Linked DNA regions of Homo sapiens: region 1 is reported to be linked to region 2. Evidence: microRNA targets listed by miRTarBase, many of them from high-throughput screens and not tested one by one. Region 2 holds a microRNA gene; the other region holds the end of a gene's coding sequence.
Evidence for each region. Region 2 holds the annotated microRNA hsa-miR-320d (AAAAGCUGGGUUGAGAGGA, at 3,113-3,131, opposite strand). A microRNA usually pairs through its seed, bases 2 to 8, with sites in the 3' UTR of a target mRNA and lowers its output. Matches are read on the target gene's strand: a 7mer-m8 pairs with bases 2 to 8, a 7mer-A1 pairs with bases 2 to 7 and ends in A, and an 8mer does both.

Region 1 (5,000 bases), not on the chromosome of region 2:
TATCTCTAGTATAGTAGACAAAACGAATTACTTAAATCTCTTTGACAAGAAAGAGTCCAAAAACCCTCTCTTCCTCCACCTTGCTCCAGATGGTGCTTAGTTCAAATGACCTTTCCCAGTAATTGGTCTTGTAGGTGCAAATGAGGCAGCGAATAGGGAGTGCCTTACATGTTTACTCTGGATCCTCACATCATCCGAGCTTACCCCCATTTCAGTTGCCTTTGTTCTAAAAGTACATCTTAAACTTTTTTCCAACAATAATCTGGGGATCTTTTCATATGCAGATTGATTCAGTAGGTTTGGGTGGGGCCTGAGATCTGCATTTAGCTAGTTCCCATGTGATGGTGATCCCACTGCTCTATGGACTACATTTTGAATGGTAAGGGCCCGAATTCATTCTTTGTTTTTTTGAGACGGAGTCTCCCTCTGTCACCCAGGCTGGAGTGCAGTGGCGCGATCTCGGCTCACTGCAAGCTCCGCCTCCCGGGTTCACGCCATTCTCCTGCCTCAGCCTCCCGAGTAGCTGGGACTACAGGCGCCCGCCACCATGCCCGGCTTTTTTTTAAAAATTTTTTTATTTTCATTTTTTTTTTAGTAGAGACGGGGTTTCACTGTGTTAGCCAGCATGGTCTCGATCTCCTGACCTCGTGATCCGCCCGCCTCGGCCTCCCAAAGTGCTGTGATTACAGGCGTGAGCCACCGCGCCGGGCCGAATTCATTCTTTGTAGGACTGGTAAACCACACCTTGCCAAATTTTACTCTTCAAAACCCTTGGTCGGGCGCAGCACTTTGGGAGTCTGAGGAGGGAGGATTGCTTGAGTTCTCTCAATTGAAAAAAAGAAAAAAAGGCCGGGCGCGGTGACTCACGCCTGTAATCCCAGCACTTTGGGAGGCCGAGGCGGGCGGATCACCTGAGGTCAGGAGCTGGAGACCAGCCTGATCAACATGGAGAAACCCCGTCTCTACTAAAAACACAAAAAATTAGCCGGGCGTGGTGGCGGGAGCCTGTAGTCCCAGCTACTCAGGAGGCTGAGGCAGGAGAATGGCGTGAACCCGGGAGGCGCAGCTTGCAGTGAGCCGAGATTGTGTCACTGCACTCCAGCCTGGGCGACAGAACGAGGCTCCATCAAAAAGAAAAAAAATACCCTGTAAGATACACATCATGCTCATTTTACAGATGAGGAACAGGCTCAGAAAGGTGAAGGGATGCCACACAACCACAAAACACAGTGAATGGTGGACCCAGGTGATCAGGTGTCTAGACCATTCTTTTAAGTAATAAGCCCCCCCTCCCTTTTTTTTTTTTGAACCAGGGTCTCTCTGTTGCCCAGGCTCGAGTGCAGTGGCGCAAGCACCGTTCACTGCAGCCTCGACCTCCTGGGCTCAAGTGATCCTCCCATCTCAGACTCCAGAGTAACTGGGACCACAGGGGCGCCCCACCATGCCTGGCTAATTTTTGTATTTTTAGTAGAGACGGAGTTTGGTCATGTTGCGCAGGCTGGTCTTGAACTCCTGGGCTCAAGTGATTCCCTGCCTTGGCCTCCCAAAGTATTGGGATTACAGGTGTGAGCCCCCGTACTTGGCCCTCATTTCTTTCAATTATAAAAAGTCAGCTCTTTGAAAAAAAAAAAAAGGGCAAAACAAGAATTCCACTTGCCTAGTAAACCACATGTTCCAATATCTTTATTAGCAATACAGGTGATATTTGATCCCCTCCCAAAACAGAATACCAAGACTGTTCCAGTATTTTCCTAGTGGATTCTCAAGCTTAAGTGTACATCAGAATCAGCTGGAGAGCTTGTTAAAACATTGCTGTGCCCAATCCTGAGTTTAGGATTCAGTAGGTCTAGGTTGTTGCCCAATAATTTGCATTTCTAATGAATTTTCCCGATGTTGATGCCTGCTATTTTAGGAATAAGTGGATGGAAGACAGGAAAAATGGGGGAGATTAATATCCTTACTTAGTACTAGTATTTTTTTTTCTTTTTTTTTTGAGGCGGAGTCTGGCTCTGTCGCCTAGGCTGGAGTGCAGTGGCGCAATCTCGGCTCACTGCAAGCTCCGCCTCCCGAGTTCACGCCATTCTCCTGCCTTAGCCTCCCGAGTAGCTGGGACTACAGGCGCCCACCGCCTTGCCCAGCTAATTTTTTTGTATTTTTAGTAGAGACAGGGTTTCACCATGTTAGCCAGGATGGTCTCGATCTCCTGACCTCATGATCCGCCAGCCTCGGCCTCCCAAAGTGCTGTGATTACAGGCGTGAGCCACGACGCCCGGCCACTTAGTACTACTGTTTTGTTAGACTAGAGGGGAAGTTATTATTCTGTGGAATGTTTTTTTTTTAAATTGAGACACAGCTTCTGTCGCCCAGGCTGAGTGCAGTGGTGTGATCTTGGCTCACTTTCACCTCTGCCTCTCGGGTTCAAGCGATCCTCTCACCTCAGCCTCCTGAGTAGCAGGGATTACAGGCACACACCACGCCCGGCTAATTTATTTTTATTTTTTTGAGACAGAGTTTCACTCTTGTTGCCCAAGCTGAAGTGCAATAGCGTGATCTCAGCTCACTGCAACCTCTGCCTCCCAGGTTCAAGTGATTCTCCTGCCTCAGCCTCCGGAGTAGCTGGGATTACAGGCGTGTGCCACCACGCCCGGCTAATTTTGTTTTAGTAGAGATGGGGTTTCACCATGTTGGCCAGGCTGGTTTCAAACTTCTGACCTCAGGTGATCCACCCACCTCAGCCTCCCAAAGTGCTGGGATTACAGGCATGAGCCACTGCACCCAGCCTAATTTTTGTATTTTTAATAGAGACGGGAGTTTCACCATGTTGGCCAGGCTGGTCTCGAACTCCTGACCTCAAGTGATCTGCCCTCCTTAGCCTCCCAAAATGCTGGGATTACAGGTGTGAGCCACCACGTGTGGCCTGGAATGTTTTCTTAAACAGCTACATTTTGCACCTGTTTTCTCAAAGCTTAGTTCTTTACCTACCTGCATAAGATGCCTGAAATCTTTACCCCCAGTCCACACTCCAGACCAATTAAGAATCCTTAAGAATGACTCAGGCAGGCATCAGTACTTGTAAAGCTCCCCAGGTGATTCCAACGCCCAAGCCAAGTTAAGAACAGCTGAAAACCTTCCCCAACCAAGGGGCACAGTGAATAGGTCATAGATATGCCTATTATTCCTATTAGGAATTGGGACACACAAGCAGCCCCTGACTGACAGCATCCTTTTATCCATGTGTGCCATTCAAATATTGGGACTATGTTAAAGGCAGCACCCCGACTGTAGGAAGCAGTTCATTTGTTTGGATGAGATGAAGTTGTCCCTATATAACCTCTACCTCAGGCTAGTAGTTAGAGTGAAATATATTTCAGTAGATGTTTGACAGCAAGTCTGCTTAAAGTAGATTAAAAACCAGTTATCTCAATGTTAAACCTCATTATCAGCAAAGAGCTGAGCTTCATTATCAAACTGAAGGGCATATAATTAGAACCATGATATTGATGATGCTCACCCTGAGTGAGGGGGAAAAAACCCGTACAATTACAGCACTAGATTATAAAAACTTCCTCTTTAATCAAGGCTTTTAACATGAACAGATTTCTTGAATAAAATGGAAAGTTTCCAGTACACTGAAACATAAATCCGCAAGTCACCACACATACAACACCCGGCAGGAAAAAACAAAAACAGCAAGTTTACATGATCCCTGTAACAGCCATGGTCTCAAACTCAGATGCTTCCTCCATCTGCCAAGTGTGTTCTGGATACAGAGCACATCGTGGCTTCTGGGGTCACACTCAGCTTAGGCTGTGGGTCCACAGAGCACTCATCTGGCTGGGCTATGGTGGTGGTGGCTCTACTCAAGAAGCAAAGCAGTTACCAGCACATTCAAACAGTGTATTGAACATCTTTTAAATATCAAAGTGAGAAACAAGAAGGCAACATAATAATGTTATCAGAAAGATGTTAGGAAGTAAGGACAGCTGTGTAAAGCTTGAGGCTGAAAAGTAGCTTGCCAGCTTCATTTCTTTGGTTTCTTGGGTAGTGGGCGCCGGAACAGCAAGATGTGAGGTTCTGAAAGAGTGAGGGAAATCTAAGAGACAAGCTCACACCATTCTATGTACAACCTATAGTGTATTCCACTACCACCTCCCCAGCTATCACCCACTCAGATCTTTATAACTAAATAAAGACTTAAGCATATGGCCTTAGAAGCAGACCCAGAAGTCTGGACTGTCTGCCAAGTACAGAATTGTTAATATCAGTTCTTTTGCTATGTTTATACAGCCCCAGGGTGTCCCTTATTAGTTTTGCCTGGCAGCTGGGTGTCTGGTGTCTTATCAATAAATATACTTTCCTTTGCTTATTTAGAACACATCCAAGAATGTTTTCGATGGAGAATGAGGCAGGGGCTATGATCAGGCTATATGTGGCCTTAAAAAGAATACCCTCTGATTGAATGAAAGATTACAGGAGGTTTTTCAGTGACAGGTTGTCTCTGAACTTCCCAGATATTTTAGTCTTATTTTTGGTCACTAGTTTTTTTTTAAAAAAATCCCCCACGACTGGAGGGGGAAGGAACCAGTAAACCATTTCCTATCTCCCTATTTGGGTTATACAATCTTATTCTTTCATTCTCTCAGTGTAGCAGTTCTATATGGTTGTTTTTAGCCAGTGCACTGACCTGGTTCATGGATCATATAATGGACCCATCCCTGACTCTGCTGAACGCCAAGATTCCTCCATTCAGATTCAGACATCAGATGGGTTTTAGGGACCAGCTTGGCTATGTCCTTGGGCAGCATGACATGTCTGTAACAGAAACGGGGAAGTGGGGAATTTATGTTAGTACCAGATACAGTCTCTTAGACAAATGCCTGTTTACAAGGCCAAGAAAGGAAAGAAAAACTGGTTTTTGATGTCAGAGTTTATATAATTTTATTGTGGGGTAGCAGCAGCTAGAAATACAGGCTATGTTATATAAATTCCGAGAGTATATT
Region 2 (5,173 bases):
GGGAGGCTGCAGTGGGAGGATCACTTGAGCCCAGGTCAAGGCGGCAGTGAGCCATGTGCCACTGCACTCCAGCCTGGGCAAGACTCTGTCTCAAAAAAAAACCACCACCAACAACAACAGAACAGATTTAAAAAAAAAAAAAAAAACACCACTTGTTCCTTTTCTTATATCTTAAGATTATAACCTTACTTCATTGATTTTCATTCTTTTTTTCTTTTTGAGATGGAGTCTCATTCTGTCGCCCAGGCTGGAGTGCAGTGACGCAATCTCGGCTCACTGCAACTTCCACCTCCCAGGTTCAAGCGATTGTCCTGCCTCAGCCTCCCAAGTAGCTGGGACTACAGGCATGTGCCACCACACCCGGGTAATTTTTGTATTTTTTAGTAGGGACAAAGTTTCACCATGTTGGCCAGGCTGGTCTTGAACTCCTGATTTCAGGTGATCTGCCTGCCTCGGCCTTCCAAAGTGCTGGGATTACAGGCGTGAGCCACCGCGCCTGGCCTGAATATTTTTTTCACTGGCCTATGAATAAGTTAAAAGGGTTTTAAAATTTCTCAACATAGGGAGTTTTCCTGATTAGCGTTCAGTTACTGGTCTCTAACTTACTTGCAATGTAATTGGAAAACATGTTCTACATTCCATTGAAATGTGTCTAGATATGCTTTATGACTAAGTTTATGATTGATTTATCAACATGTGTGCTTGAAATAAATGTATTTGCAGCTATTTAGATCACTGTGTAATGGTCTACAAATTTCCATTAGGTCAAGATAATTAGGTATAGCAAAGCTTCTGTTTGTCTGCTGAGTTCATCAATTATTACGTTAAAATATTTTATCATAATGGTATATTTATTTGTATTTCTATCAGCTTTTGCCTTGTATATTTTGAGTCATGTTATTAGGTATGTACAACTTTGTATTTTTCTGATAAACAGAATTTTTTTAAGTTTCTAATGTCTTTCAGACTATTTTTTTCCTGATATTAATATAGCTATACCAGCTTACCTTTTACTTTCAACCTTTCTGTATTCTTGCTTTACATATAACTCCAGTAAATAGTGTTATCACTTGACATTTAAAAAAACCCAGCCAGGTGCAGTGGCTCACACCTGTAATTCCAGCACTTTGGGAGGCCGAGGCAGGTGGATTACTGGAGGTCAGGAGTTCATGACCAGCCTGGCCAACAAGGTGAAATCCCTTCTCTAATAAAAATAAAAAATTAGCCAGGCGTGGTGGTGTGTGCCTGTAATCCCAACTACTCGGGAGGCTGAGGCAGAAGAATTGCTGGAACCTGGGAGGCGGAGGTTGTGATGAGCCTAGATCGTGTCACTGCACTCTGGCCTGGGCAAAAAGAGCGAAGCTGTCTCAATAAATAAATAAAAATATAAATAAATAAATAAATAATCCACTTGGACATATTCTACTGTCATGTATTTTAATTAATTCCATATGGTATGACTGTTTTATTAGTGCTTAGAATTAAAATATATATTCACTACTTTTTTTTTTAATAGCAGACAGCTTATTGAAGGGCAATAGAGAGCAGAGAGTTTATAAAGACATACTCTGAACACTGAGGCAGAGCACACTGCTGAAAGAGAGTGAGCCAGCAGCATACTCACTGCTTTATTCATCTGCCATTTTCTTCTTGCATCTCAGGCCTTAAATTTAAAATCATTTCTCTTCTGCCTGACGTACAACTTTAGGAGTCTTTTAATGAAAGTTTGCTGGTAGCCAACTGTTTTTGTTTGACAAATGCATTTAGCCCTCATTTCTGAAAGACATTCCAAATATATCAGTAACTGTGGTAAATATAAACAAACTAAACACCCAAATAAAAATAAAAAATTTTCAGTGTCTCATGTGTACTGGAAAAAAAAATGTATTCTGCTGTTATTGGGAGCAGTTTCTATACATGACCAACAGATTGTTGTTTTTGCCTTTTTCTTTCTGAGACAGAGTCTCACTCTGTCACCCAGGCTGGTGTGCAGTGGGGTGATCTTGGCTCACTGCACCCTTCACCTCCTGGGTTCAAGCAATTCTCATGCCTCAGCCTCCCAAGTAGCTGGGACTATAGGCATGTACCGCCATGCCCGGCTACATTTTATATTTTTAGCCGGGCATGGGGCTTCGCCATGTTGGCCAGGCTGGTCTCAAACTCCTGGCCTCAAGTGATCTGCCCACCTTTGCCTCCCAAAATGCTGGGATTACAGGCATGAGCCACCACACCTGGCCAAGGGATTGTTGATTAACTGTGAATTAGTATCTTTCATGAATTGTAAAAAACTCTCACCCATTAACTATTTAGAGGCTAGGCACGGTGGCTCACACCTGTAATCCAGCACTTTGGGAGACTGAGGTGGGTGGATCATCTGAGGTCAGGAGTTCAAGACCAGCCTGGCCAACATGGCGAAACCCCGTCTCGACTAAAAATACAAAAATTAGCCAGGCATGGCCGGGCGCAGTGGCTCATGCCTGTAATCCCGGCACTTTGGGAGGCCGAGGGGGGCGGATCATGAGGTCAGGAGATTGAGACCATCCTGGCTAACACGGTGAAACCCTGTCTCTACTAAAAATACAAAAAAATTAGCCAGGCGTGGTGGTGGGCGCCTGCAGTCCCAGCTACTCGGGAGGCTGAGGCAGGAGAATGGTGTGAACCCAGGAGGCGGAGCTTGCAGTGAGCCCAGATTGCGCCACTGCACTCCAGCCTGGGCAACAGAGTGAGACTCCATCTCAGAAAAAAAAAAAAAAATGAGCGAGGCATGTTGGCACGTGCCTGTAATCCCAGCTACTAGGGGGTGCTGAGGCAAGAGGATCGCTTGAACCTGGGAGGCGGAGGTTGCAGTGAGCTGAGATCATGCCACTGCACTCCAGCCTGGGCAACAGAGCGAGGCTCTGTCTCAATTAAAAAAATGAAAAAAAAAAAACAATTATTTAGAGTTAGCCTCTGACCTATTTTCTCTTTTCTTTCCTATTGGCAATACGATTGTACAAATGTTACTCTTTTACTTTCCTTTCCTATTTCTTTCCTCTTTGCTTCTCTCTGCTGCATATGGATACTTCTTTACTGCTGTTAAACTCCACTAAATTTTTCTTTTTTTTTCTTTTCATCCTCTCAACCCAGCTTTTCTCAACTTTGGGAAGAACTGGGACGAGAAGGCCAACATTTTTAATGTTTTTCAAATCTGCTTGGTCACTTTTAAAGCATCCTGCTCAATATTCATTCTATCTTACACATATTTTATATTCTGACTCTGATAAGCCCAATATTCAGAGGCTTTATGAGTCTGATTCTGTTCTCGTTTCTGCTGGTACACATTCATGGTTTTGCTTCCTTGTGTGTTTTGTCATTTGAAGGCTGTTGTTATGGTGGATTCCTTCACACGGTTCCTGTTGACCTGGAACACTATTAGCTTGGGACCACTGTCAACTAAATCTTGTTTTGAGTTTTTTTAGAATCCTTGAACCTTAAAAAAAATTTAGGCCAGGTGCCATGGCTCACATCTGTAATCCTAGAGCTTTGGGAGGCCAAGGCAGGCAGATCACTTGAGGTCAGGAGTTCAAAACCAGCCTGGCTAACATGGTGAAACCCCGTCTCTACTGAAAATACAAAAAAATTAGCTGGGTGTGGTGGTGGGCACCTGTAATACCAGCTACTTGAGGGGCTGAAGCAGGAGAATTGCTTGAACCCTGGAGGTGGAGGTTGCAGTGAGCCGAGATCACGCCGCTACACTCCAGCCTGGGTGACAGAGCAAGGCTCTGCTAAAAAAGAATAAAAAAAAAAAATTTTTTTTCTTGAGACAGAGTTGCTCTATCACTCAGGCTAGACCATAGTGGTGTAATCAGAGCTCACTGAAGCCTTAACCTCCTAGGATCAGGGGATGCTCCCACCTCAGGCCCCTGAAGAGCTGTGACTACAGGTGCATGCTACCACGCCCGGCTAATTTTTTAATTTTTTGTAGAGACAGGGTCTCCCTATGTTGCCCACGCTGGTCTCAAACTCGTTGGTTTAAGTGATCTTCCTGCCTCGGCCTCTCAAAGTGCTGGGATTATATGCATGAGCCACTGTGCCCAGCCCTCAATCCTTTGAATTGTATGAAAGTTGAGTCACGCTGCTCAGCAGCATAATGGAAAAGAAATAATTCTAACTTTGGCATGAAGACCTAAAGTACTAGAATGGATTAGAATAAACCCTTTATTTCTACAAGATTAATTTCTCTATAGTGACCCAGACTTAGGTGAGGGTAGTTAATTTAGTGTAAAATATATGTATAAATGTAAACAAATAAACGTATGTACATATATATCTGTCTATAAATCATCTCAACTCTTATAACATAGTACTGTGATATCATCCAGTAATTGTATTGTATTTCAAAGAAGTATGGTCACCGAGTGAAAAGAAAAAGGTTAGGAGTTGTTGTCTTAAATGTATTACTAATTCCCAGATATTCTTTTGAACCTATGAATACTGATGATTTTTCTCCATGCAAGAATATTTTTCAGTTACCATCATATTTTTGAAAACAATGTAACATTTATACCAGCCAAATCAAATGTAATAATCAACATAACATATACAAACTCTAGTAAAATTATTTTATTTAGTTGTAATATCCATCTCTAATTGTTTGAAATAAAAATTTCCATGGTCTTAATTGAACTGTATGTTACTTTCTTTTAGAATATCCTTTTTTTCATTAAAATAATTTCTAAACCACTCTATGTGTTCAACCTTCTGTTTAACACTAAGATATGGGTTTTTGGAAAGGCCACAAGTCACCAGCTCCATGAAGTGGCGAATTGGTCCTTGTTTTGGAAAGCTCTCCAGGTGTTTCTCCAGAAATATATGTTCATGAAATTCTGAACCATCATCATCAAAACCTAGGAAATGAGACCAAATACATTACATTATAATTTTAAATACAAAACCTACATCATAAAAATAATATTAATGAGGTAATATAATATTACAGTTTAAGGCATGAACTTTGGAGTTAGACCTAGGTTGCATTTTTTTTTTTTTTTTGAGATGGAGTCTTGCTCTGTTGCTCAGGTTGAAGTGGAGTGGCACGATCTCAGCTCACTGCAACCTCTGCCTTCTGGGTTTCATGCGATTCTCCTGCCTCAGCCTCCCGAGTAGCTGGGACTACAGGCATGTACCACCACGC

Region 1: the mRNA of CKS1B is a reported target of hsa-miR-320d. Seed matches in the 3' UTR shown: 7mer-A1 at 3,989-3,995.

What each region holds. Positions count from the first base shown.
Region 1 is chr1:154,977,799-154,982,798 of GRCh38, reverse strand. It overlaps CKS1B (CDC28 protein kinase regulatory subunit 1B), which reads right to left. Exons shown (of 3, transcript NM_001826.3): 2 at 4,685-4,812; 3 at 3,548-4,074. The coding sequence ends at 4,022. Among named protein-coding and RNA genes, the nearest start is that of FLAD1, 3.0 kb to the left of the region's middle. RefSeq lists enhancers at 1-202, 803-1,400.
Region 2 is chr13:40,724,716-40,729,888 of GRCh38, forward strand. MIR320D1 (microRNA 320d-1) reads right to left here and starts at 3,172; the gene lies at 3,101-3,172. It overlaps MRPS31 (mitochondrial ribosomal protein S31), which reads right to left. Exons shown (of 7, transcript NM_005830.4): 7 at 4,413-4,886. The coding sequence ends at 4,657.